Homo sapiens: one gene and its partners. The protein of the gene in region 5 purifies or fractionates together with the protein of the main gene of each other region. This does not show direct contact. Each region holds a gene or a part of one and is shown on either strand. Other genes may lie near its edges.

Evidence for each region.
Region 1: the proteins of ARHGAP23 (region 5) and HP1BP3 purify together in Homo sapiens (affinity purification with mass spectrometry; one large-scale study listed by BioGRID and IntAct). This does not show direct contact.
Region 2: the proteins of ARHGAP23 (region 5) and LSM14A purify together in Homo sapiens (affinity purification with mass spectrometry; one large-scale study listed by BioGRID and IntAct). This does not show direct contact.
Region 3: the proteins of ARHGAP23 (region 5) and ZC3H14 purify together in Homo sapiens (affinity purification with mass spectrometry, with the first as the bait; one large-scale study listed by BioGRID). This does not show direct contact.
Region 4: the proteins of ARHGAP23 (region 5) and GSPT1 purify together in Homo sapiens (affinity purification with mass spectrometry; one large-scale study listed by BioGRID and IntAct). This does not show direct contact.
Region 6: the proteins of ARHGAP23 (region 5) and NT5C2 purify together in Homo sapiens (affinity purification with mass spectrometry; one large-scale study listed by BioGRID and IntAct). This does not show direct contact.
Region 7: the proteins of ARHGAP23 (region 5) and PRR36 purify together in Homo sapiens (affinity purification with mass spectrometry, with the first as the bait; one large-scale study listed by BioGRID). This does not show direct contact.

The regions. Positions count from the first base shown.
Region 1 is NC_000001.11:20,777,308-20,780,807, forward strand, and holds part of HP1BP3 (heterochromatin protein 1-binding protein 3), read right to left. Parts: intron 3,234-3,500; 5' UTR 3,134-3,233; coding exon 3,038-3,133; intron 2,605-3,037; coding exon 2,505-2,604; intron 1-2,504. UniProt on the Homo sapiens protein: Component of heterochromatin that maintains heterochromatin integrity during G1/S progression and regulates the duration of G1 phase to critically influence cell proliferative capacity.
Region 2 is NC_000019.10:34,210,504-34,214,003, reverse strand, and holds part of LSM14A (protein LSM14 homolog A), read right to left. Parts: intron 1-3,500. UniProt on the Homo sapiens protein: Essential for formation of P-bodies, cytoplasmic structures that provide storage sites for translationally inactive mRNAs and protect them from degradation. Acts as a repressor of mRNA translation. May play a role in mitotic spindle assembly.
Region 3 is NC_000014.9:88,625,067-88,628,096, forward strand, and holds the end of ZC3H14 (zinc finger CCCH domain-containing protein 14), read left to right. Parts: coding exon of another isoform or gene 1-61; 3' UTR 62-1,771; coding exon of another isoform or gene 1,772-1,980; 3' UTR 1,981-2,530; downstream 2,531-3,030. Other genes in the region: EML5 (echinoderm microtubule-associated protein-like 5), read right to left, coding at 1-61, 1,772-1,980, 2,580-2,753. UniProt on the Homo sapiens protein: RNA-binding protein involved in the biogenesis of circular RNAs (circRNAs), which are produced by back-splicing circularization of pre-mRNAs.
Region 4 is NC_000016.10:11,913,157-11,917,437, forward strand, and holds the start of GSPT1 (eukaryotic peptide chain release factor GTP-binding subunit ERF3A), read right to left. Parts: upstream 2,801-4,281; 5' UTR 2,565-2,800; coding exon 2,213-2,564; intron 2,057-2,212; exon of another isoform or gene 1,864-2,056; coding exon of another isoform or gene 1,833-1,863; exon of another isoform or gene 1,222-1,832; coding exon of another isoform or gene 1,188-1,221; intron 1-1,187. UniProt on the Homo sapiens protein: GTPase component of the eRF1-eRF3-GTP ternary complex, a ternary complex that mediates translation termination in response to the termination codons UAA, UAG and UGA.
Region 5 is NC_000017.11:38,469,964-38,473,463, forward strand, and holds part of ARHGAP23 (rho GTPase-activating protein 23), read left to right. Parts: intron 1-1,899; coding exon 1,900-2,043; intron 2,044-3,500.
Region 6 is NC_000010.11:103,102,773-103,106,272, forward strand, and holds part of NT5C2 (cytosolic purine 5'-nucleotidase), read right to left. Parts: intron 3,030-3,500; coding exon 2,934-3,029; intron 2,610-2,933; coding exon of another isoform or gene 2,586-2,609; intron 1-2,585. UniProt on the Homo sapiens protein: Broad specificity cytosolic 5'-nucleotidase that catalyzes the dephosphorylation of 6-hydroxypurine nucleoside 5'-monophosphates.
Region 7 is NC_000019.10:7,868,219-7,871,390, forward strand, and holds the end of PRR36 (proline-rich protein 36), read right to left. Parts: coding exon 1,497-3,172; intron 1,327-1,496; coding exon 815-1,326; 3' UTR 501-814; downstream 1-500.

The DNA of each region.
Region 1 (3,500 bases), on a different chromosome or scaffold from region 5:
AACATGAAAGAAAAAGGACTCCAGTGGCAAGCATATACTTCAAGCCAAAGTATATGCTTGAAGAATTTGATCATTTAAATTATGTGAACTAATTATTGCAATAATGACGAGGACTTCTTTGTGGCCTTCCCATAAAGAGAATTTTATTTATTTATTTATTTTTTTTTTGAGACGGAGTCTCGCTCTGTCTCCCAGGCTAGAGTGCTGTGGCGCAATCTTGGCTCACTGCAACTTCCACCTCCCCAGGTTCAAGCGATTCTCCTGCCTCAGCCTCCCTAGTAGCTGGGACTACAGGTGCGTGCCGCCATGCCCAGCTGATTTTTTGTATTTTTAGTAGTGACAGGGTTTCATTGTGTTAGCCAGGATGGTCTCGATCTCCTGACCTCGTGATCCACCCGCCTCAGCCTCCCAAAATTCTGGGATTACAGGCGTGAGCCACCGCGCCCAGCTATAAAGAGAATTTTAAAATGCCACTTCTTTCTTAAAACCAAATCACATAAGTACAATTCTAACACTTATACTAAGCGAGTGATTTCCATCCTCCTTTGGAATTCTCTGCTTCTAGAATTGTTTCCCATATGCTTAGGATGACAAAGTATTATGGATAGAACTTCACTATAACAATGGTATCTGGGGATAAAGATAATAACTACATTTAGGTTTTCCACAATAAAATGTATTTTTCATCATGATATATCTTTTACTGCCCCTCAACCCAACAATTTGACCTAAATGGCTGCATGGGCAAGAATTTACTATTAGTTAGTCATGTTTATTTACACTTTGTCTTATTCTAAAAAAGATGAAAAGCTAAGAATCATTCAGGGGTTTTACGGTAGTAAGACTTATAAATTTACATTATTTTCTCTTCTCAAGAATAACTGCTCAAGAGTTATGGCTTAATAAAGTTCAGTCACTCAACAGATATTGAATATGTATTATGTATAAGACTGTTTCCAACTCATTAAACTACTGTGTTTCTGTGTAAAACATAGAGTTTACAAAATTTAAAATAAGTGAAGTCTAATTTCTATGTACAAAATACTGTGTACAAAATGGGATAGAGAGAAGATTAAACAAACATACAACTTGTGAAGTGACACTGTTTCTTCATAAACTTCTGGTTGAGTTTTCTAATACTTTACATCTGAACCCTCTGGCATATATTCTGAAAACTGATGTTATTAGTGATTTAGTGGCTTCAGCTGGCTGTTAAACATGGATTAAGATGGACCACCAAGTGGCTTATCCCAGTGCTGGACAAGATAACCTATCTTCAACTTACCAGCACCCGTTTACTTTTTTAAATATTTGGATTCCCGTGTTTCTTAACTGCCTTAGGCCAGGGTGCCCAAATTGCTTATAGCATTCATCTAAGGATTTAGAGAAAAAATCCAGGCTCAGCCAGAAAAGAGTATATTGACTGGTTATTGATGTCTGCCCTGATGCACCAAGGATGCATGTATTTTCTACTCCTCTTTTTTTTTTTTTTCTTTTTTTTGGAGACAGTTTCCCTCTGTTGCCCAGGCTGGAATACAATGGCGTGATCTCAGCTCACTGCAACCTCTGCCTCCTGGGCTCAAGCAATTCTTGTGCCTCAGCCTCCTGAGTAGCAGGGATTACAGGCATGCACCACCATGCCCAGATAATGTTTATAATTTTAGTAGAGATGGGGTTTCACCATGATGGCCAGGCTGGTCTCGAACTCCTGACCTCAGGTGATCTGCCCTCCTTGGCCTCCCAAAGTGCTGGGATTACAGGTGTGAGCCACTGTGCCCGGCCCTCTATTCCTAATACATGCTGGTCAGCAAATAATTGATTCTAACAGCCACAACAGAGGCAGCACAGTGTGCTTATCCCTGAAAAACCTGAGATAAAAGGCAAGAGAGAAAGGAAAAAAGGGAAAAGATAAGGAAAAAAACCAAAAAGATCATGAGAAGAAAAATAAAGACGGGAAAAGGAGAAGAGGTGGTTATACATGCCATAAAGGAGCATTAGTACTCCATGTTGATGGGTCTATGTTTCTTTCCATTTGTTATGCTCCCACCACTGACTGGCCAATCTTCTCTCTACCAATACCTGTTATAGATCAACAGATCACCATTTGCTTCTCTGAAGGCCTCCAGATGATTTCTGGATGAACCTTCCACTGTCTATTCTAAAGGCCCACGTTTTCCATTCTCCCACACTGCACTGATCCCCATGACACTTTATGTCCAGAATGCTACTCTCTGGCCATTCCTGTCATCCCCAAACATTTTTGTTTTTAATTCCAACATAACATTTTCACCTTCCAAAAACCTTTATAGAGAAGATGAAACCTTACTTTGCCCTCATGGTCTGGCAATGACATACCAATAGCTACTGATTCTCTCTAAATGTTTCCCCAAAACACTTAGCCATGAAAAAAAAAAAAAAACAATTAAGTTCAAAGGAATTTATGGGACACTCCAAATTGCAGTATAACTTTTGATGTTTTAAGCTGTGTCACCATTTTACTTTACCTGGCTTTTCTTCCTCCCCTTCAGCAAGCTTGCTTTTGGGAGGAGTTTCCCGGGTAGAATTCACAGTTCGACGAATCGGCATGGTGCTATCTTCTACCTTCTAAGAAAAGAGATGGCCATAATCAAACATGCATTAAAAAATTCTCTTTTCTCTCTTTCTCAAAGGGCCTAACTGGGTGTCAGATGTAGGAGAATTCTTCAAGTCGACTCCAGGATCTGATGCAAATTACTTTTAACAAGTTTTTTTTGAAGTGAAATATGATTTTTAAGATACACTTTTTAAAGTATGTTATTTTAGCTTGAATTTCAAATGGAAACACATAATTATAGTTGATTTGCTATAAATTTAGAAGGTTGGAGGTTTTCTCAGGAATTTGAGGGGAAAGGGAAGATGAAAAGAATCTGATTTTGTTTCAAATTCACAACCTAGACTCCCCAAAGTAAGGGAAGGAACATGTACCAAGAAGGACCCAGCAGGGCCTGAAGTCAGGGATTGATCCAAGAGTGAGCTTCAAGAATGTGTCAGCCCCTACCTCACCTAACTTGTCCGCGTGGATCAGCTGAGCTCCTACTATAAGTGGGAGTGCCTTAGGATGGACGAGTTCACCTTGAGACGTATCAGTCGCCATTTTAAATAATTTCTAGGCCCGAGTACAGGTTACACTCTGAAGCCTCTGCTGTTAACCACAAGGATTTTTCCTAATGGTTTCAGTGTGGTGAAGAATCAACCTAAAGCACAGAAAAGACCTGGTGTGAAGATTAACAGAAACAAAACTAAACTAAAACGTCTAAATTTAATACACATCCAAAGGGAAAAAATATAACTATAAAATTTATAGGTAAGTGACAGATGATTTGGTTACTCAGAAAGATAAAACTACCAAAATATAGACTACATAAAGCAGCAACTAAGACGAATGCATAAGCCACGGCAGCTGTTGCACCTTCCACATGAACAAAGACAACAAGGGCAAGGAAGCTCCTAAGGAACCTAAC
Region 2 (3,500 bases), on a different chromosome or scaffold from region 5:
CGAGACCAGCCTGAACAACATGGCGAAAGCCTGTCTCTACAAAAAAAATACAAAAATTAGCCAGGTGTGGTGGCACATGCCTGTAACCCCAGCTACTCAGGGGGCTGAAGTGGGTGGATTGCTTGAGCCTGGGAGGCAGAGGTTGTAGTGAGCCGAGATCGGTCCACTGCATCCAGCCTGGGTGACAAAACTAGACTCTGTCTCAAAAAATACAAATATAAAAGAGCCAAAACAAAAAATGGGGTTTGTACTTATACATTATATTTTTCCTTTTATGAGGTCGCCTGGTCACAGCATGAACTGAAGAATGTAACATCGGGTGCTCCCATCATGCTTTCTGTCCTGATAATGTTTGCTGTACATCTCTGCTTAGGCACTCACATCTCATAATTATTCCAAAATATAATGTTTTGCTTAAAAAAAATGCTCATTTCACGTAAAAAAATCCCCCAAATATGCTGCAAATGTTACTGTCCATCTGTGCATATTTGCAGGTGTCAAACAACTGGTGAGTGCTGACAATGCATTATTATGTACCTAGATGATTCAGGGATAATTTATTAGTAATATTTCCCCAATTTATGATTATCTAAAGTATGCACTTACAAATGTGCAATACCATTTCAGCCATTAATGGCAAAGTTAGCCAAATAAATGATCATTTATCAAAACCCAGAAACCGACACAGGCACAATCTACTTAACATTTCAAAATTAAGTTACCACTAATAGAAGCATTACAATTTTTCCACTGGATTATAATGGGAAATCATGGTTTATGTAAGTTTTGGCCTATGAAAAAAACATTTTATAATCACTTATAAAACACATTTTGTTTTTTGTTTTTTAGGGACAGGATAGGGTCTTGTTCTGTTGCTCTGGCTGGAGTGCAGTGGCGCAATCACAGCTCGCTGCAACTTCTAACTCCTGGGACCCAATGATCTTCCTGCCTCAGCCTCTTGAGTAGCTAGGACTATAGATGTGCGCTACCACACCTTGCTAATTTTTTTTATTTCACATGTCTTCCTGAAAAAGCCTACTGCTACAGTTAATTTTATGGTACTACATTAAATCATCTTATAAGTTTATAAAACTTCTTTATCAAGGCTTTTGAGAAAAGATCCTATGGCTCACAAGTACTACAGAAGTACAAGCAATGGGGCAATCGGAGCAAGTACAGAAACATTTGTTGTGTACTTAAAAAGCCTTTTCACTATTAAGGCCTACTAATCATCATGATGCCAGTTTTGTTATAAACAGGGAAATACAGGTGATACTGTGATACTGGATACATTATTAGGAATAAATCCAGAAGTGATTTCTGCATATTATAGACACACTCCCTTGAGCTATCTTCACAATCTTATCACACTTAAAATTCTAGGAATTTTAATTTTGTGAAATTCAGCAATTTTAGTTGATAAAACTTAAATGCAAACTCTTAGGACTTGTCATTTGTCATAACTTTATGTAAATACACCTCTTTCTTTTAATAAACACATACTTCAAAATTTTTAACATTTTAATCTATTTAAAATTTATATATTTTTTGGTGCTCAGTATGAGGGAAAGAATCTAGAGTGACTTTCTCCAAATGATCAGGCAACATTATTAATTGGAACAGACAGCCTTCTCTCCACTAATTTAAAATAATACCTTTATCATCTACTAAATTCTTTTAAGATGAATTCTTGCTCTGTTGCCTAGGCTAGTGTGCAGGGCCGCAATCACAGCTTGCTGCCACCTTAACCTCCTGGGCTCAAGCAATCCTCTAGCTTCAGCCTCTCAAGCTGATAGGCGCACACATCACGCCCAACTAATTTTTAATTTTTTTAGAGACAGGGTCCTGGTATGTTGCCCAGGCTAGTCTCAAATCCCTGGCTTCCATCTTGAACTCGCAAAATGTTAGGGTTTCAGGCATGAACCACTGCACCCAGGATAAATTCTTATTTATACTCGGATCTGTTTCTGCCTGCCTATTGCTTTCTATTCATCTCTTTCTTTTTTCCTGCATTGCTACATTTTATTATCATGTCAGTAAACCCATTACTTTTATTTTTCAAATATGTCCAGCCACACTTCCATGTTTATTTTAAAGATAAACTGTTTTACTAAGTTCTCCTACTATTCTATTTGCATTGATTTTTAATTAATTTGCAATAAATTTGTTAACTATGAGGAGTAAAGTCTTCCCAACATCTTTTTTTTTTGGGGGGGGACAGGGTCTTGGTTCTGTCGCCCAGGCTGGAGTGAGGTAGTGCAGTTAGGGCTCACTGCAGCCTCGGCCTCCTGGGCTCAAGTGATCCTCCTGTCTCAGCCTCTTGAGTAGCTAGGACCACAGGTGTCCACCATCATACTCTGCTTATTTTTAAAATTTTTTGGTAGAGATGAAGTTTCACTACGTTGCTCAGGCTGGTCTCAAACTCGTGGGCTCAAGTGATCATCCTGGCTTTGCCTCCCTAAGTGCTGGTACTGTTCTTGTTCTTCTATCTAGCAATAAGATATGTTTTTTCCATTACATGCAACTTTTATGTCCCTGTCTTACATTATTTATCATAGAAGTTGGTCATATTTCTTAGTATGACCAACTTATTTCTTATTATATATTTTGTATACAATTTCTATTTTGCATTACTGTAATCATCTTTTCTCCTCATTACATAATCAATGGATTAGGCTTTAGGACTATTAAATTTTTTTTTTTTTTAAGATGGAGTCTCGCTCTGTCGCCCAAGCTGGAGTGCAGTAGCGTGATCTCGGCTCACTGCAACCTCTGCCTCCCGGGTTCTCCCACCTCAGCCTCCTGAGTAGCTGGGATTACAGGTGCACGCCACCATGCCCGGCTAATTTTTGTATTTTTAGTAGAGATGGGGTTTCACCATGTTGGTTGGCCAGGCTGGTCTCGAACCCCTGACCTCAGGCGATCCGCCTGCCTTGGCCTCCCAAAGTGCTGGGATTACAGGCATGAGCCATCGTGCCCGGCCAGAACTATTGACTTTTGTATATTTAATTTACATTTTGCCTGTGCCTAATTTAAGTTCCTTATTAGTTCTCATTCTTCATGAATAATGCTAATTTCAATATTTATGCTTCTTTTTCATGTGTTCCTGATTTAACTAAAAATTCCAGAATAGGCCGGGCACTGTGGCTCATGCCTATAATCCCAGCACTTTGGGAGGCCAAGGTGGGTGGATCACTTGAGCCCAGGAGTTCCAGACCAGCCTTGGCAACATGGCGAAACCCCGTCCCTACAAAACTAGCTGGTGGTGCTTGCTTGTGATCTCAGCTAATTGGGAGGATGGCCTGAGCTCAGGAGGTAGAGGCTGCAGTGAGCCATGATCACACCACTGCATTCCAGTCTGGGAGACAGAGCAGGACCCTATCTCAAAAAACAAACAAACAATCTTTAGAATGTTTAAAAATTAAGCAAGTAGGCTGGACGCAGTGGCTCACATCTACAATCCCAGCACTTTGGGAGGCCAAGGCAGGTGGATCACTTGA
Region 3 (3,030 bases), on a different chromosome or scaffold from region 5:
ATATGTGATCTTTCCACACACAGACATCACCACTGATGGTACCTGTAAACGTCAAGTTATTCTGAAAAGGAGTGGGGGAGGGGGAGACAAACTCATCAAAAGTTCAAATAGAGTTTAAATAGATAATTTTCTATGTATGTGTAATGCTGTCTCACCCTTGATACAAAGAGCATGCATCGTGTAGTGGCAGCAGCACTGAATTCACGAGTCAGGAAACCTGAACGGGAGGCTTAGCTTTGTCAGGACCTTTTCCTTTCCAAGTCTGTTGCTTATTAGCTAGAATAACCTTAGACAATTCTTCCCTTCCAATTCTAACATACTATAATTCTAGGGTTTATTTTTTATTTTTTTGAGACGGAGTTTCGCTCTTTGTTGCCCAGGCTGGAGTGCAATGGTGCGATCTCAGCTCACCACAACCTCTGCTTCCCAGGTTCAAGTGATTCTCCTGTCTCAGCCTCCCAAGTAGCTGGGATTACAAGCGCCAGCCACCACGCCCGGCTAATTTTTGTATTTTTAGTAGAGACAGAGTTTCACCTTGTTAGCCAGGCTGGTCTTGAACTCCTGACTTCAGGTGATCTTCCCGCCTTGGCCTCCCTAAGTGCTGGGATTATAGGTGTGAGCCACTGTGCCCGGCCTGAGCCACGGTGCCTGGCCTGGTCTTATATTAAGAATACCCAAAATGTTCAACTGAAATTTGACATGGCACAAACATTTCAATAGTCTTTTTCTCAAAAATGTAAGTGTACTTAAATATTCTAAAATTATAACTTTTCCTATAAGTATTGCATAATCACAAAAACAAAAAATGCACTTAGTTTTTCGATGCACCAAAGGATTTATACAGCCTAGCCAATGCAGGATATTAAAGGAAAGAGATGTGGATTGGAAGCCACAGGTCCAGATGAGATGGAATAAAGTGAGAGGAGAGCAGGTCTCCTGAACACCCTTCTGTCAGGGCCAGGAATTGTGCTATTTCCTTCTGTCTCACTACCTCCTTCTTCCCTCGAAGTAGAGACACTGGCCCAGAGCACTTCCAGCTGTATGATAAGCAGTGTGTTAAATGATAAAAAGCAAAGGAAATCCTAAACCCTAGTACCACCTTAAATCATTTGAAAATCATGTTTCTTGATTTACCTTTCTCTCTGACAAATTTTTAGGACTATGAAGAACTACTAGGAAGACAGAAATTTTAGGATATTTAGGGTGACAATTAGAAGATTAAGGAAGGCTTTTGAGTATAACAGTAGTCCAAGGAATCAAATGTTCATCAGAATCCTTATTATGGTGGCTCATGCCTGTAAACCCAGCACTTTGGGAGGTCAAGATGGGAGGATCACATAGCTTAGGAGCTTGAGACCACCTAGGCAACATAGCGAAACCCTGTCTCTACTAAAAATGAAAGAAAAATTAGCCTAGCATGGTGGTTCCTGCCCTGTAGTCCCAGCTACTAAGGAGGCTGAGGATCACTTGAACCTGGGAGATGGAGGCTACAGTGAGCTATAATCGCACCATTGCACCCCAGCCCAGGCGACAGAGTGAGATACTGTGTCAAAAAAAAAAAAAAATCCTTTTCCCCCTCTCATTAACATTCTTTTCACTCCCTAATTTCTGAAAGAACTAGATTTTTGAAAGATGAAATATATGCTTGACCAGGGCATGTAATGATTAGCAGATCACAGTATCATCTCAACAACATTCATGTGGCTGATGATCTAAGGCAAGAGAATGTAAAGTAGTCAAAGTCACACTATGTGCATTTTAAGAGACATACTGCACCAAATGCAATAGCGAGCATGGTCTGCATCCGGGCATCTTCCAGTGTGCTCAGTAGCCCTTTTTTGCTAAGAAGAGCTCTTCCTGCCAGGGTCCAGAACTTCACATGTTTTACTCCCACTGAGACAAACTGGGTATCTGAATCTGGTCGGAATTCTGCCACAAAAATACGTTGATTGTGACCAGCTCTGCTGGCAATTTTGGCACCTGACAAGATACAACAAAATTATCTAGGTTATTACAAGAACCAAGCTAATCAACAGCATCAAACAAATATGTAAAATACATAGTTCAAAAAACAAAGGCTTAGAAGAGAGGCCAATGGCCCCTGCTCTACTACCTAGCAATACATGATTTACAATTATTTGTGTATTGAGTCCTTTTCACTTATCTTCGCTCCATTAACTTTTCTTTATATAACGTAAATGTTTTGTCTAAAGTGTGGTAGGTAATATTATCCTGCTGATCTGCCATTATCATTAGAAATATACATAATTTTCATAAGAATCTCCAAAACCAATCAAATCATTAATAATAAATACATAGTTTCTTGCTGGAAGAAAATAGCAGTGAATCATTTATAATGCTAATAATGGTTTCATTAATTTATCTGTTTTGTGAGGTTACAGTTCCACTGGGCTTTTAAAGTGAAATATACCTACAGTACCACTGTGTACAGTATATTGCATAGGCCTCCACTGAATGATTGTTTCAACCACCAACTTTAAGACAAATATTAAATACAGAATTCCTACTACCTTTGTATTCTTGTTTTTTTAAAAATCAAACACACAAAAGAATCCTACCTTCCTGCCATCTCCAAATGGTAATAGTATGTTCTGGGTCTAGTCCCACAGACAGCAATAGTTTGCCAGTAGCACTGAAGCTGACTGAACATACTCCCTTTGAATGGTAGCATCTTAGGATAGATAAAGTCTGCTTGTTCATTGCATCCCAGATGTGAATAGAAGGAGCTGTAGCTAAATAAAGATAGTATCAAAAAGTTGTAATCTACCTGTTATAAATATTTCTGTTTCTAAAGCTTATGCATATTCATCTGTGAAACATGGACAAATGTGTACCAAACAAAAACTGTACTTAACAAAGAACAGCTCAAAACTAAGGCTAAATTTAAGAAAGGAAAAGGAGTTTTGGGGGTGGGGAGGAAAGAAAAGGAAAATATATAGAACACTTCTTCAGGCCATATTCCAAATTGCACTTTTGGAAAAACAGCATTTAGACAAGCAAATCAGGCAA
Region 4 (4,281 bases), on a different chromosome or scaffold from region 5:
AGCACTGATTGTTCTCCGATGCTGGCTTTTTATGGACTTAATAGTCTGGAACATGCAATCCAACAGTCTCAATATAACCCTGGACCTCAACTTAGAAAATCAGTTCTTTTCCAAATAGACATCCTACATAGGATAATTTTTTAAAAACATGAACTGGCATTTTGGTACAAGCAATTGGTAAAGTCGGTAACACCAAAATAGTTTTTTGATTAAAAACAAGAAAGTTGACCATGCTGTACGGATTCTCTTACTGACAGCTACTTCCCTACAGGTTTTCGCATCTCCAATTTCTAGCACTGTCAAAGAGAAAAAGATTAGGTGTAACTACAAATTAGCAACTATCAGGAAGAGAGAAAGCCCGCATAAGAGGTAATACCTAGTCACCAACAGTGACCATTCTAGACCAAGGTTGGTTATCCCCGGATGACTCGCTGGACAGGCTGTAAATGGAGTCCTGAGTCTAGTCAGAGTGGTGCTGGTGGCTCCACAGAAAGGAGGAAGAGCCAAGAAAGAAAATGGCTGGATAAACGGAATCTGCAAAGTAAGGTAGGGAATGGGCACTTTTAGGAGCTGAGAAGTGAACTAGGTTAGGCAGTCAAAATGGCTTGATGTAAGTCAAGAATTACAAGCTAAGCTTCCTTATTCAAGAGGAAAACATTGTCTAGAGCCGTACCACCCTGAAAGTGCTCGATCTCCTCAAAAGAAAACATCAACCACCCACACAAATAAATGCCACTGTCAACAAAACCACCAAATCAACCGTGCTGACGTACATACGTCATCAGAGTGTTTCTCCAGACACTATCCCTTTACCACGAAAGAGCAAACGGTGACAAAAGTTTCTGTAGAAACCAAACTCCTGGAGCACTTTTATAATGTCCACTTATCTAAGAACCACCACAATACAGAACTTTAAAGAGAGAAATCAACAATATGTTCTCACTTAAAATGCGCTGGATGTCATGACCCACCCCACTAACGTCCTGGCTAAATGATGAAAGGACGTTCAGCCTTTTCCTTCCTTTTTCATTTTCTCTTTAAGGAAACACTGATAGTTCCTAAAATAAGCACCATTAGGAAGAGAATACTTAAGTTCACTCATTTGACATTCCCACAAAATCAGTACCTGAAAGCAAGCTACCTACCACAAAATAAGCACCATTATGAGAATACATAAGTTCACTCACCGGATATTCCTACAACGTCAGCACCTGCAAGCATGCTACCTACGACTTAAGCAACCCCTAAGTACGGGAAGATGTTTAAAAACCAAAGTTAACTCGAAATTTTATGGATTAGAAAATGTATGTCTACTAGCTACGGTCAGAAAGACACGTGAGAACTATTAAATTATAACAAATGCTCAAGTGTCTGAAGAAATAGACTGAACTACTGATGCACGAACACAGTGAGTTATTCCAAGCAATCTGAATAAGGTCAACGATTTTACAGCAATGAAAATTCTCTAAACGTGTCGCTGACAAAGGATAAAAGTGTAAGCTTCACTTTAAAAAGACACAAATCAATATAGTCTCCTATCACACATTAAGTGAGGAATCCTAACTTTGTGGCACTTTGTAAACTTTAGAAGCGTACACAATGCTAAGGGTAAAACAGATCTTGGTATTGATAGCCAAGTTTCTGCCCGATCACAAGGCTGCAATGCATCTTGGGATTCCTTCAGGACGGTTGGGGGCCACGGACAGTTTAAACCGTAATTACAGTTTCAATAGTAGAAAACGCAGCAGAAGACGCTCTCTCGGCTGGGCCTAAGGTGAAAGGAAAACTCGGCCATTCGTCCTCCCCAACTCCTGGGATCTCTAAACGCCCACCCAAATGACTCCTGGCTCCATCTGTCCTCATTCTGCGCCTCGTGGCAGGGATCCGCCGCGGCCCCCACTCCGTTCCATACGGTTCCCATCTCAAGTGGGTAACTGCGGACTCCAGAGCAGGGCAGGGGCGCGGAGGGGCGGCACTCGGGTCCGGGTCTTTGGGCGCGCTGCCCGCTGTCCGCTCCCCGCCCGGCCACCGCCGCGGGCCGCCCCGCGAAGGCCGGCTCCCGGGCTCGGGGCGCCCCACCCAGGCAGACGGCGCCACTGTCAGCGCCCCACGTGCCGACCGGGCCCCAGGGCCGCGCGCCCCCGGACCGCACCCCTACGCCATGTGGGCTCCGGCGCCCGGCCGGACTTCCTCCCGCGTCCCGGGCCTTTACCCGCACGGCCTCCCGCGCCGCTGCCGGCTCCGTGGTTATTGGCGGCGCCGCCAACTGGGGGTGGCGGCGCTGCCGGGCCCCGCAGGAAGGACGGCACGAACTCGGCGGCGTGGACGTTGGGCACGAAGGGCTTGGCGTTGACGTTGAGTTGCCGGCTGAAGGCCGCGCTGAGGTTCTCCCGCTGGGCCTCGGCCGCCGCCGCCAGGGAGCCGCCGCCGCCGCAAGGGCCCGGCCCGGGGGCTTCCATGTCCGCCTGGTCCCAGCAGTCAGGCGCCGAGTCGCTGCTGCTGCTGCCGCTGCTGCTCCCGCCGCCGCCGCCGCCGCCGCCGCCGCCGCCACTGCCCGGATCCATGATCGGGGGGGCCGTGTGTGTGGTGGACAGAGAGCGGGAAATGGAGGCAGGGGCGCCCGGCCGGAGAGGAGTGGGCAACGCTGACTGAGGGAAGGCGGCGGGGCAGAAGGGCCGGGAGCTAGCGACAAAGATCCCCGGCGTCGCCGCGGCAGCAGCTCCAGTCCCGACTCCACACTCGCGACGACGACAGAGGCGGCGGCGGCGGCAGCTCAACCCTCCTCCTCGTGTGTGTGAGCGGATCTCCTCCCACCCAACCACCTCCGACGGCCTCACAGCCAACCCCACCCCCGGCGCGGATTGACCCCTCGCCGCCACCCGTACCTTCGCCTCGGTAGTTCTCTGTTCTGGCCGCCCCCGTTTCCGGCTATTTAGCGCGGCGGGAGGTGGAACTACAAGTTCCGGCAGCGCCCGCGCTACCCCGCTGCGGTTTTCCCGGGGGCCGACGGGAGTCGAAGTTCAGGGACAGGGCGCAACCGGAAGCGGCTCCGGCTCCCGGCAGGCAACGCGAGGAGGCGGAGGTCTGGTGGCCGCTCGGCGGCCCCACCTGTCACCTGGTGGGGGGGCAGCGGCAGGCCCTGGTTGGTGCAGCTCTGTGCTGGGCCGAAGACCGAGAGTATTTTAGCCCATAGGAGGGGTCCACTCTGGCCTGCTGGACACAGGCTGGGGGAAAACGGACAGCATCTATAACATGGGGAAGAAAAATACACTCAGCTCCCGAAAATTCTTGTACTCTCTTTTCACCACCTTTCCTGCGTTCTCTGCCTCACAGTCTCCGTACCTTATTCTCTCTCCACCTTCTTTCTCCTCACCCCCAGCCAGATTTTGCCCTTCATTTCAAAGCCGGTGCAGATTGCAAAGCTGATTTCATTTTATGTAATCATTTCGTGGAAGAAACAATAAAACCGTGAGATATTCCGGCTTAAAACTGCAGTGTGGCTCATAAAGCGCTGGGGCCCAGGCTCTGCCCAGGCAGAAGGGATTGTTAACTGGAAAATTTCAATGACTCACCGTTTGTTTGACTAGTCATATAAAGCCTTCACCCAAATTTTTCCATCCTTTCCTCCTCCCCGCCAAAGGGTTTGCAAATTAAACAGAGGATTGCCGTATTCCATGGTGTATCCGGCTTACCTAACAGGGTTATTTTGGTGAGTCTAGCTTCCTTATGCACCATTACGTGAAGTGGTTTCCTTTTGAATGGTCTGATTTGCTCAAGAATTCCCATAGTACTTTTCATCGACTGCATCTTACACTTACAGATTAGGTAAACCTGGGAAAAGAACAAAAGCAAACGAGAAATACTTAAGAGTTCGCATTTAGGCCCTTCATGAAGTAGGAAAAAATGTTGCTCTGAGTACCTGTTAAGCTTTCCTGTAATTCACCCATGTGGAGCCCAAGACAGAGAAAAACATATTGTTAGTATTTTTCTGAAAGGAGTCTAGACAGGGTGCAACTAATCTGCCTAGAAATTACAGACTAAAGAAGCACATACATAGAATAGATGTTTCTGAACAACCTTAGGTTGTTAAAAAAAAAAAAAACCTAACAAAATCCAGATCTAGATCTGTATTTTAATTTTCTTTTTTCTTTTTTTTGAGACGGAGTCTTGCTCTGTAGCCCAGGCTGGAGTGCAGTGGCGCGATGTCGGCTCGCTGCAAGCCCGCCTCCCGGGTTCACAACATTCTCCTGCCTCAGTCTCCGGAGTAGCTGGGACTAGAGG
Region 5 (3,500 bases):
AGGGAGGTGGGGCCACAGCCTCGGCATGGGGGTTCCTGCTCCAGCTCCTGCCTTCCTCCTCCTCCCTGCACCCCTCACCCTCGTGTCCACCGCGGGACCCGCCCTCTGCTGTGGGCCCCGACATCCCTGAATGACACCATGCAGCCCCGCCCATGGGCCCTCGTCTGGACTGCCTCTTTCCAGACCCATCCCCCATAGCCACATGACTCACTTCTCCCCTGTCTTCGCGGCTTTTTAGGTCTTCCCTGAAATTCCAGCCTCCGCTCCTGACATTTCACGCCTCCCTTCGCTACTCTATGTTTTCCTCCTCAGCACGCCTCATGCACAATTGGTGTTTCCCTTCCTCCCTGCCTGGCTCCCCAGCTAGAATAGAAGCTCCCTGAACTTATATTTGGGGCTTCATTTGTTTCCTTCACTACCCTCAGTCAGTATTTGCATCGCGTCTTGTCTTCATGGGATGGGGTCGGGGTGGACACTGGAAAGGTGTGGCCGGGACACAGGGTTGAGACTGGTGGACAGGTAGAGTTCCCAGCCTCAGGACCTGGGGAGGCAGGATCAGGCCTGTGATAGCCCTGGCTGTTTGTTTGTTTTGAGACAGAGTCTCACTCCATTGCCCAGTCTGGAGTGCAGTGGCATGATCTTGGCTCACTGCAACCTCCACCTCCTGGGTTCAAGCTATTCTCCTGCCTCAGCCTCCCGAGCAGCTGGGATTACAGGCGTGTGCCACCACGCCTGGGTAATTTTTGTATTTTTAATAGAGACTGGGTTTCACCATGTTGGCCAGACTGGTCTCGAACTCCTGACGTCAGGTGATCCACCCACCTCGGCCTCCCAAAGTGTTGGGATTACAGGCGTGAGCCACCGCACCTGGCCTCAAATGATTTTCTTGCTTCGGTCTCCCAAAATGCTGGGATTACAGGCATAAGCCATCGCACCTGGACATATTTTTGTTTTTAAAATCATACATATATTTTTCATGCATGATTTTTCTTTCTTTTTTTTTTTTTGAGATGGAGTCTCACTCTATTGCCCAGGCTGGAGTGCAGTGGCACGATCTCAGCTCACTGCAACCTCCACCTCCTGGGTTCAACCGATTCTCGTGCCTCAGCCTCCTGAGTAGCTGGGATTACAGGCATGCGCCACCACACCTGGCTAATTTTTGTGTTTTTAGTAGAGATGGGGTTTCACCATGTTGGCCAGGCTGATCTTGAACTCCTGACCTCAAGTGATCCACCTGTCTCAGCTTCCCAAAGTGCTGGGATTACAGGCATGAGCCAGCGTGCCCGCCCCACCTTTCCCTGGCTGTTTTTGATTATAGATGGACTGGAAAAGCCATCTTGATGTCAAGCGCTCTGTCTCATTGGTTGGTTGAACACCCTGGTGATATTGGCACCTAGCTTATTTCTTATCACTTTTTCTGCTTACTTAACTCTCCCTTGACTTGCGCCCTCTGGCTGGAGTCCTGTTGAGACTGTCACTTCCTCTGTTTAACTCCTCGTGGACATGACTACCTGCTCCACTCACTCAGCCTTTGTTGATGTTCCCACTTCCCCTGTTTATTTAACTCCTCGTTGACACGATCACTTCCTCCATTTCCTTGATTCTTCTAAGTCTATAAAGTTATGGGAGGCTCCGAATTGGCTCCTGTAGTGTGGTGAGGCGTGTGGTCTGCTGACAGGTCGTAGCCTTTCCTCCTTTCTGGCTTCTCCTTTATGTACGTCTCATGACCTCAACACAAGTGGTCCAGAGAGGACAAGCAATGCCCATGAGGTCGCACAGCACATCGGGGTGTAGCACAGACATATATCAGGCCTGTGCGGCCACAAGTGGTCCATGGGGTTCCTGAGATGCTGGCATTGTGGGAGCCACCCTAAATTGTCCTCTGTTGTCTCCCTGCAGTCCTTGGATAGCTGGGGCACCTCTGAAGATGCTGACGCTCCTTCTAAGCGACACTCAACCTCTGACCTCTCAGATGCGACCTTCAGCGATATCAGGAGAGAAGGCTGGTTGTATTATAAGCAGATTCTCACCAAGAAGGGGAAGGTAAGATGGGTGGAGGAATGAGGTGGAAGCTGGCTCCAGCAGAACCCTCCAGCCTCTCCTAGGCCTACCCTGACAGCCTCTGGAGCCAGAGAGAACCAGTGTAGGTTGTTGCATGAAGGATGGAGGTTAGATGCTAGGAAGAACTTCCTGGCAGGGGGATTTAAAGAACTTATGTAAAAGAAGTTAACAAGAGAGGTGGATTTTGCTGTGGGATGGATCTGATCGAGTCGTGCTTGGAATATTCTGGCAAAACCATCCCACACGGGCCCTGGCTTGACAGGCCATCCTGAAGATGGCCGCTGGGGCTCATGGAAAACAAGGAGCAAGGCCGGGGTGATTTCCGTAGGAGAGCTAAGGCCCAAGAAGACGCAGGCAAGCCAGCAAAGGGCTTAGTGTTCATCCTAAGGGCAACCAAAAGCTCTCGGGGGCTCTTGCCAAGGGAGTTACAGCTTTAAAATATTCATTTGGCTCCCTGGGAGTGAGTTAGGGAGGGGCCATGCTGGAGGCAAGAAGACCAATTAGGAGCCACCGTGGAGATCCAGATGAGAGGCGAAGGGGGCTTCGGGGAGTAGTTGGGGAGGGCCTGGGAGGGAACCAGCAGGACTCTGAGAGGAGAAGGGCAGGGCCCCTGGATCCATGGGGTGCAAATCCTGGCCCCAGGCTGCGCTGTGGGCTGGAGAAGTGGGAGGAGAGACCACTGCCTTCCCTCCTGGCGATTAGGATGAACCCGGGTTTGACTCTTGACTGCATCACCCATTGCTCTGAGAGCCTGGGTGACTCACCTGGCCATGACTCAGTGTCCTCTCCTGTAAATGGAGCTAACAGTAATCCCTAGCTCATAAGCCTATTGCTAAGGATTAAATGAGATGATCTAAGTAAAGGGTTTACCCAGTGCCCGGCACTTGAAGCTGCTGTACTTCTGCTTACTGCTATTTGTTTTCTTTTTTTGAGACGGAGTCTCGCTCTGTTGCCCAGGCTGGAGTGCAGTGGCGCGATCTCGGCTCACTACAACCTCCACCTCCTGGGTTCAAGCAATTCTCCAGCCTCAGCCTCCTGGGTAGCTGGGACTACAGGCACTCACCACCAAACCCGGCTAATTTTTTTTTTTTTTTTTTTTGTATTTTTTTAGTAGAGACGGAGTTTCACCATGTTGGTCAGGCTGGTCTCGAACTCCTGACCTCAAATTATGTGTCTGCCTCGGCCTCCCAAAGTGCTGGGATTACAGGCGTGAGCCACCGTGCCCAGCCCGCTTACTGCTATTTGAATTTTCTACCCTGCCTTCTGGGGTCTTGGGGGTCCCTGGAAAGAACATAAGCTTTGAAGCAGACAGACTTTGAGTTCCTATCCGGCCACATATCAAGCACGTGGCTTTGGGCACCCCACTTACCTTCCCTGAGCCTCACTTTCTGATCTGTACGATGGGAACAATGTTATCCTACCCCAAGGGCTGCTGTGGA
Region 6 (3,500 bases), on a different chromosome or scaffold from region 5:
AGTAGTTCTATTTTAGTGATACTAAGTTTGAAGTAAACTGATTTTTATTAGGCAATTAGAAACAAAGGTCAAGAACTTAAAAGAGATTCAGCCTTGAGAGATAACTGAGATCATCTACGTACAGATACTAGATGGAATCATGAAAAGTATTAGAGGAGATGAAACCACTTAGTGTGCAGAGAAGGAAGAGAAGAGACAGAACAGAACCATGAAGAAAATTCAAGGTTTAAAAGAAAAAAGCCAGTGAAGCAGAATTTGTTAAAGATGCAAAAACACTTCTAGAAGAAAACATTTCAGAGAAACTCAAAGGGAAAAATACTAAAATATAAAAATGCACAGTTCTGACAGTGAATACATGGAGATTAACAATGTAAATAAAGGAAATCAAATTTAAAGCTCACACTCAGAGTGACCTGGATTAATTCCTGCCTGGGTTTGTTAACTACAAATGGCATAAACTCTAGTTAGACATATAAAAATCACATTAGCTCCCTGTCTTAAGTCACTCTTCTGAGATGAGAGTTCCCAATAATGAATAACTTTGTAGAGTATCTTATCTTCTAGCTTTCCAAGATTTTCTTTAATAAAAGTAAGGTGGAAGGTAACAGTAAAAATATACTTTCTTCAGTTAGATTTAATAAGCTGACACTGTCTCCTTAGATACAATATACTTCCCTATTCCCTCCATCATTAAAGAAAAATTCCTTTACATAAAGATGGTTAACATTTATTAGGCAGTTAGAACCCAAATTGATTTATAAATATAGTTAGCAATTACATTGTAAACTTCAGTGTCAAATCACACTAGTATATATTTAAAATAAAAATCAATTTGGGGGAGGTAATATATCATAAAAGAAATGCTACACTTGGAATGGGAAGAAAACAGTTACAGCACAGATTACTACTAACTTTCTGTGACCCACAGAATAAAAATTTATCAAAAAATAAGGTCCTAACTCATTAGCAAAGCCTGATGGAGTCCTTCTTTTCCAGCCTTGTCTACCACTGTAATAGCTTCGATAACTTTCTTTCCCTCTATCTTCAGTCTCTTCTTTTCATGGGAATTTTAATTTTATTAATTTATTTTTATTTTTTTGAGATAGGGTCTTGCTCTGTTACACAGGCTGTACTACAGTGGCACCAACACAGCTCACTGCAGCCTCAACCTCCTGGGCTCAAGCACTCCTCCTGCCTCAGTCTCCCATATAGCTGGGACCAAAGGCATGTACCACCATGCCCAGCTAATTTTTGATATTTGTAGAGATAGGGTTTCACTTTATTGTCCAGGCTGGTCTCCTAGGCTCAAGAAGTCTTCTTGCCTTGTCCTCCCAAAGTGCTGAGATTATAGGCGTAAGCCACTGTGCCTGGCCAGCTTTTCTGTTTAACTCTAAAGACTGCACAGTGCTAAGTGCTATTTGAATGATTCTGCATTTACTCATAAATGACTTATTTTTGAAACACTATTAAATGCATTAGCAAAGGAGCTATGTGGAAACTTTATTGGCTTATTTAAGGGAAGAGAGGAAGTCTGTGGATCTTGAGTTGGAAATTTGATCGTAGTACTAACTTATCCAACTGCTTCTCTTTTCTTCTCTGCCTACCCCTCCCTTATAATACAAAAATTCCTTTTTAGACATAATAGAACCCTGGTTCATCTTCATTGAGATTCTGAGTTATGATGACAATATCTGTGTATAAAATAGCTTAAGTTACTAGTACAACCTGTAATTACTTCATATTCTAAATCCTGTTTCCTGATATTTTCATGGATCCTGAACAAACCCCCTCATGAAAGAAACAGTGAAAGAAATGTGGATGTAATCACTGGCCTGCTCAGATGTGTCAAGATGGGTGTTTACTTCACACCGTTCTCATGTATACATGGAAATCTCTGAGCCTGTGTAATGTCAGTAATGCCAACTAAAGAGTCTTAGATGCTTCAATTCTAAGGGGCATCCTGTGACCTCAAATCTAAAGGAAGCTCTGGTACAATTACAGTTGGTTTGTGCCTCTTATCACAAAAAAAGACATTGTCTTTTTAAACATTTCAATGTAGCCTGGTGTTTTTCCTATTCTGCCATCAAGAATGAATAGTAAATGGAAAAGTTACATAAGAGACTGACACACATCCTATTCTGGTTTTACGAGCTGTTGTTCTGACCTTAATACAATGTCAATAGTAAATAAGGTGGCATAACAGTAGAGAAAATGTATAACAGTAAAGCTATAGCTACAGAAGTTGTCAAATTGTGGCATTATGATTTGAAAATATCGGGACATTTCACAAAAAAATAGTAGATACTAAATTTCATCTGCTGTTTACTAGGGTAAAAAGTTCAAATTAGTGACAATAGTGGAAATATTTTTATTTTGAAAATAAAGCTTATTCTTATTTGTTTAAAATATTATTAGCACATATTCACTTTAACCTTATGTTTACATTTTTTTAATGACACAATCAAATGTCAGGATTCAAAGTTTAGATTCATTAGAATCTAAAAAACGTATTGGCTATTAAAAATCTCTTAATCATTTAAATTGCTATAGTTTAAAATTTTTTCAAAGCATTTTTATATACATACCTCTTCTGAACAGCTACCTGAGAACTGTATTAGAAAGAAGAAAATAAAAATCTTAGAATTTCAAATAAGTCAAAACTACTAAAGTTCTTCTGGGCAAGTTTTAAGATTAGTTTTGTTGTATGCTGTATAATTGGAAGGCACTTAATTTAAACAAAATGTAATTGCTAACTATATGTCAGTTTGGGTTCCAACTGCCTAATAAATAACTGTTAACTAACCTTATGTAAGGGAATTTGCTCTTTAATGATGAAAAGTAATAGGGAAATATATTACATCTGGGGAGATGATGTCATCTTCACATTGTTTGACTTTAACATTAGAAAGAGGCTAAAGGTTCTCTGTACTCACCCCCTTATAAAGTTAAATCCATGTGCACAGACCAAGAGGTTTCCATAGGCATCGACTTTCAAAAGATTTCCATACAGTGTGTCAAAGACAAGTCCCCTATGTGAAAATGAAGACATTATTGATAATGCAAAGTAATACAGGCAATAATTTTATGTAGTAGTATTTAATCATCATGAACCAACCTCATTTAATTCAAGCTTTGTACCAACTCAAAGTATGTCCTAATATAGCTAAAGTGAGTAAAATCTTAAAAACTAATTCTAAAGCAACTAAAAAATATTGACTCCGTCCAGACAGAAAATCATAATTGTTTTCTGTAAGGAATAAGTGCTTAATCAAACAAGGTATAAAAAACATTCTTCTTACTACACAGCTGGTACCATTCTAAAACATAGTCTTTTTTCTTGGACAACTGAGAAGGCTTATATTTTTCTCCATTAGATGCTGTATGTGGGATATATATGATAGCATCTCAAACATCATTTTCTTAATCTTAAATATTCCCTATCAAATCCAGAAATGGAAACTGCCAAGCTTCTATCATGTTAAGTGTATTAGAGAAACACG
Region 7 (3,172 bases), on a different chromosome or scaffold from region 5:
GGAGGCTGAGGCAGGAGAATCGCTTGAACCCGGGAGGTGAAGGTTGCAGTGAGCCGAGATCGCGCCATTGCACTCCAGCCTGGCGACAAAGGGAGACTCCGTCAAAAAAAAAAAAAAAAAAAAAAAAAGAATTAGAATAGAATAGAAAAGGGTTCCAGTCGCTCCTTCACCTCGGCCACGCACTGACTCATCCACTCGGGCGCACAGCCCCTGCCAGGCCCCTCCTGCACCGAACGTTTCCACCAGAAGTCGGATACCAAGAAGCCCAAGTTCACACACGTGGATGGGTGCGCGGCACCAGATGGCCGGGACTCGGCATGGCCCCGCCCTAGCCCCACCTGGCCTGCCCCTTCTCTCCCAGAAGAGGAAAACCGCACTTTATCCAGAGCTCCAACCGGTTCGAGCACAGCCGCCAGCAAGGCCTTATCTGGCCTGGCCCCCCGCGCCGCTCAGCCTGCTGGAGGCCCCCAGCCCCAGTCCTCTCTGTGACAGCGAAGGTGTGCAAGTCCCAGTGTCCCAGTTTTATTGCAAACTCAGGCTGTGCGGGGTGGGCAATACACTGCACACGGGGCGGGACTCGGGGAAACGGGGCGTGTCCTAGGCCAAAGGGGCGGAGCTCGAGGGGCGGGCCTAGGTCAAAGCTGTGGGTAGGTCCCGAGCCTCCGAGGCCAAAGGCTCAGGCTCTAGGGAGCTAAGACTAATCCACCCAGCGGGGCTCCAGGGCAGTGGAGGCGGGGTCTAAAACAAACGGCGTACCCGGAGGGGCGGATCCTAAGGCAGGGGTGGGGTGTAGCAGGCGGGGCTGTGGTCTGGCTCAGTGGAAGGTCTCCACCTCCACCACGGTCCAGTCACCCTGCGGGGAGGCCACGTCGTCCGGAGAGAAGCTGGTGACCGAGGTGATGCTGGCACGGGACTCGTCCAGGGGAGACAGTAGTTCGGCCCAGCGGCCGAGTTCGGCGTCGCTGAGTGCAGCCCGGGCGCCCCCTGTGACGCCACCACCCTCCGCACCTCCTGGGCCCCCGCCGCTGCCGCCCGCGGCACCCTCGGCAGCCGCCAGCAGCAGCGTCCGGCTCAGCAGGTGCTGCACGACGCTCGCCTGCAGCGCCCCCAGTGGCAGCTCGCCCAGGCGCGCCTGCTTCGGGCTCCGCGAGGACGCCCCGGCCCCGGCCCCAGCCGCCGCCTTCCCACCGCTCGTGCCGGGACTGGGCCCCGGATCCAGTGCGCCAGGGGCGGGGGTCGCCGACTCGGGCCCTTCAGTCTCGTAGATGGTGCACAGACCGTCAGCAGAGCCCGGTCCGGTAGCGGGAGGCCACGGCAGGGGCGCACCTGCGGGGAGAGACGCCAGGTGGGCCGTGGGGGTGATAAGCCCCGCCCCTGCCTCAAGGTCCCGCCTCCTTGTCTAAGCTCCGCCCCGGACCCAGCTGTCCCGCCCCTGAGCTGCGAAGCCTCGCCTCCGACCCCGCCCACAGCCAGGCCGGGTCTGGGGTGCCCCTTACCTGGGGCTCCGCGGAAAGCCAGCGGCGGAGCGGGGCCTCGACTCCAGGCAGCCGGGTGGCAAGCGGCGAGCTCTGCGTCGGGGGGCGGGGAGGCTGCGGCACCGCCCTCGGGCCCGCTGTCGTAGCCACGCAGCTCCTCTGGCGTGCTCGTGGCGCTGCTGCTGTGGCCGGCCAGGTCTGGGCCGCTCAGCGTGCTGGACGGGCTGCGCGAGGGCGGCGGCGGCGGGCCGGGGGCCAACGCCAGGGTCAGCCGTGGGCCCGAGACGGAGGTATCCGGACCCGGGGTCGGGGGGCGGCGTGGGGCCTGCAGGGTGGGTGAGGCAGGGGGAGAGGGAGGGACCTGCAGAAGGGGCGCTGCCAGAACAGGTGGGGCCTGTGGAGGAGGCGTGGCCAAAGGAGACATTGGGAGTGAGGCAGAGGGTGAGAAAGGGGCCTGCCCAGGGAATGAGGCAGGCGGAGAGGGAAGGGCCTGCAGAGGAGGTGTGGCCAGAGCAGGTGGGGCCTGTGGAGGGGGCTTAGCCAAAGGAGACATTGGGAGTGAGGCAGGGGGAGAGGGCGGGACCTGCAGAGGAGGAGCGGCAAGAAGGGGTGGGACCCGTGGAGGGGGCGTGGCCGAAGGAGACATTGGGGGAGAGGCAGGGGGAGAGGGTGGGACCTGCAGAGGAGGCGCAGCGAGAGGGGGTGGGGCCTGTGGAGGGGGCGTGGCTGAAGGAGACATTGGGGGAGAGGCAGGGGGAGAGGGTGGGACCTGCAGAGGAGGTGCGGCTAGAGAGGGTGGGGCCTGTGAAGGGGGCGTGGCCGAAGGAGACACTGGGGGTGAGGCAGGGGGAGAGAAAGGGGCCTGCACTGGGGGTGAGGGAGGGGGAGAGAAAGGGGCCTGCAGAAGGTGCACTGCCAGAGCATTTGGGGCCTGTGGAGAGGGTGTGGCCAAAGGAGACAGAGGGGGTGAGGCAGGGGGAGAGGGAGGGGCCTGCAGAGGAGGCAAGGCCAGGGCAGGTGGGGCCTGTGGAGGGGGCGTGGCCAAAGGAGACAGAGGGGGAGAGGGCAGGCCCTGCAAAGGGGGTGAGGCCAGAGCAGGTGGGGCCTGTGGAGGAGGCGTGGCTATGGAAGAGGGCGTCTCCGGAGGGGGCGTGGTCAATGGCGAAGGTGGTGCTTGCAGAGGGCATGGGGCTGGACAAGGTGGAGTCTCCAGATGGGGTGTGGTCAGGGGAGCAGAAGCTGTCTGCAGAGGAGGCGGGGCTAGAGAAGGTAGGTTCTCCAGAGGGGGTGTGGTCAGGGGAGCAGAAGCTGTCTGCAGAGGAGGCGGGGCTAGAGAAGGTAGGTTCTCCAGAGGGGGTGTGGTCAGGGAAGCAGGAGGTGTCTGCAGAGAGGGTGGGGCTAGGGAAGATTGGGTCTCCAGAGGGGGCATGATCAGGGAAGAGAGAGGTGCCTGAGGAGAGTGGGAGGCCAGAGAAGATAGCGCCTGCAGAGGGTGTATGGTCAGGGGTGAGCTTAGGGGTGAGACAGCAGGAGAGAGAGAAGTCTGCAGAGGGGGTGAGGCAGGAAGGGAAAGAGGGGCCTGCAGAGGGGGTGAATCAGGGGGAGTAGAGGCCGGCCGAGAAGGTGAGATCAAAGAAGCTTGGGTTTGCCTAGGGGACATTGTCAGGAAAGAATGTGTGGCCTGCAGAGTGGGTGAG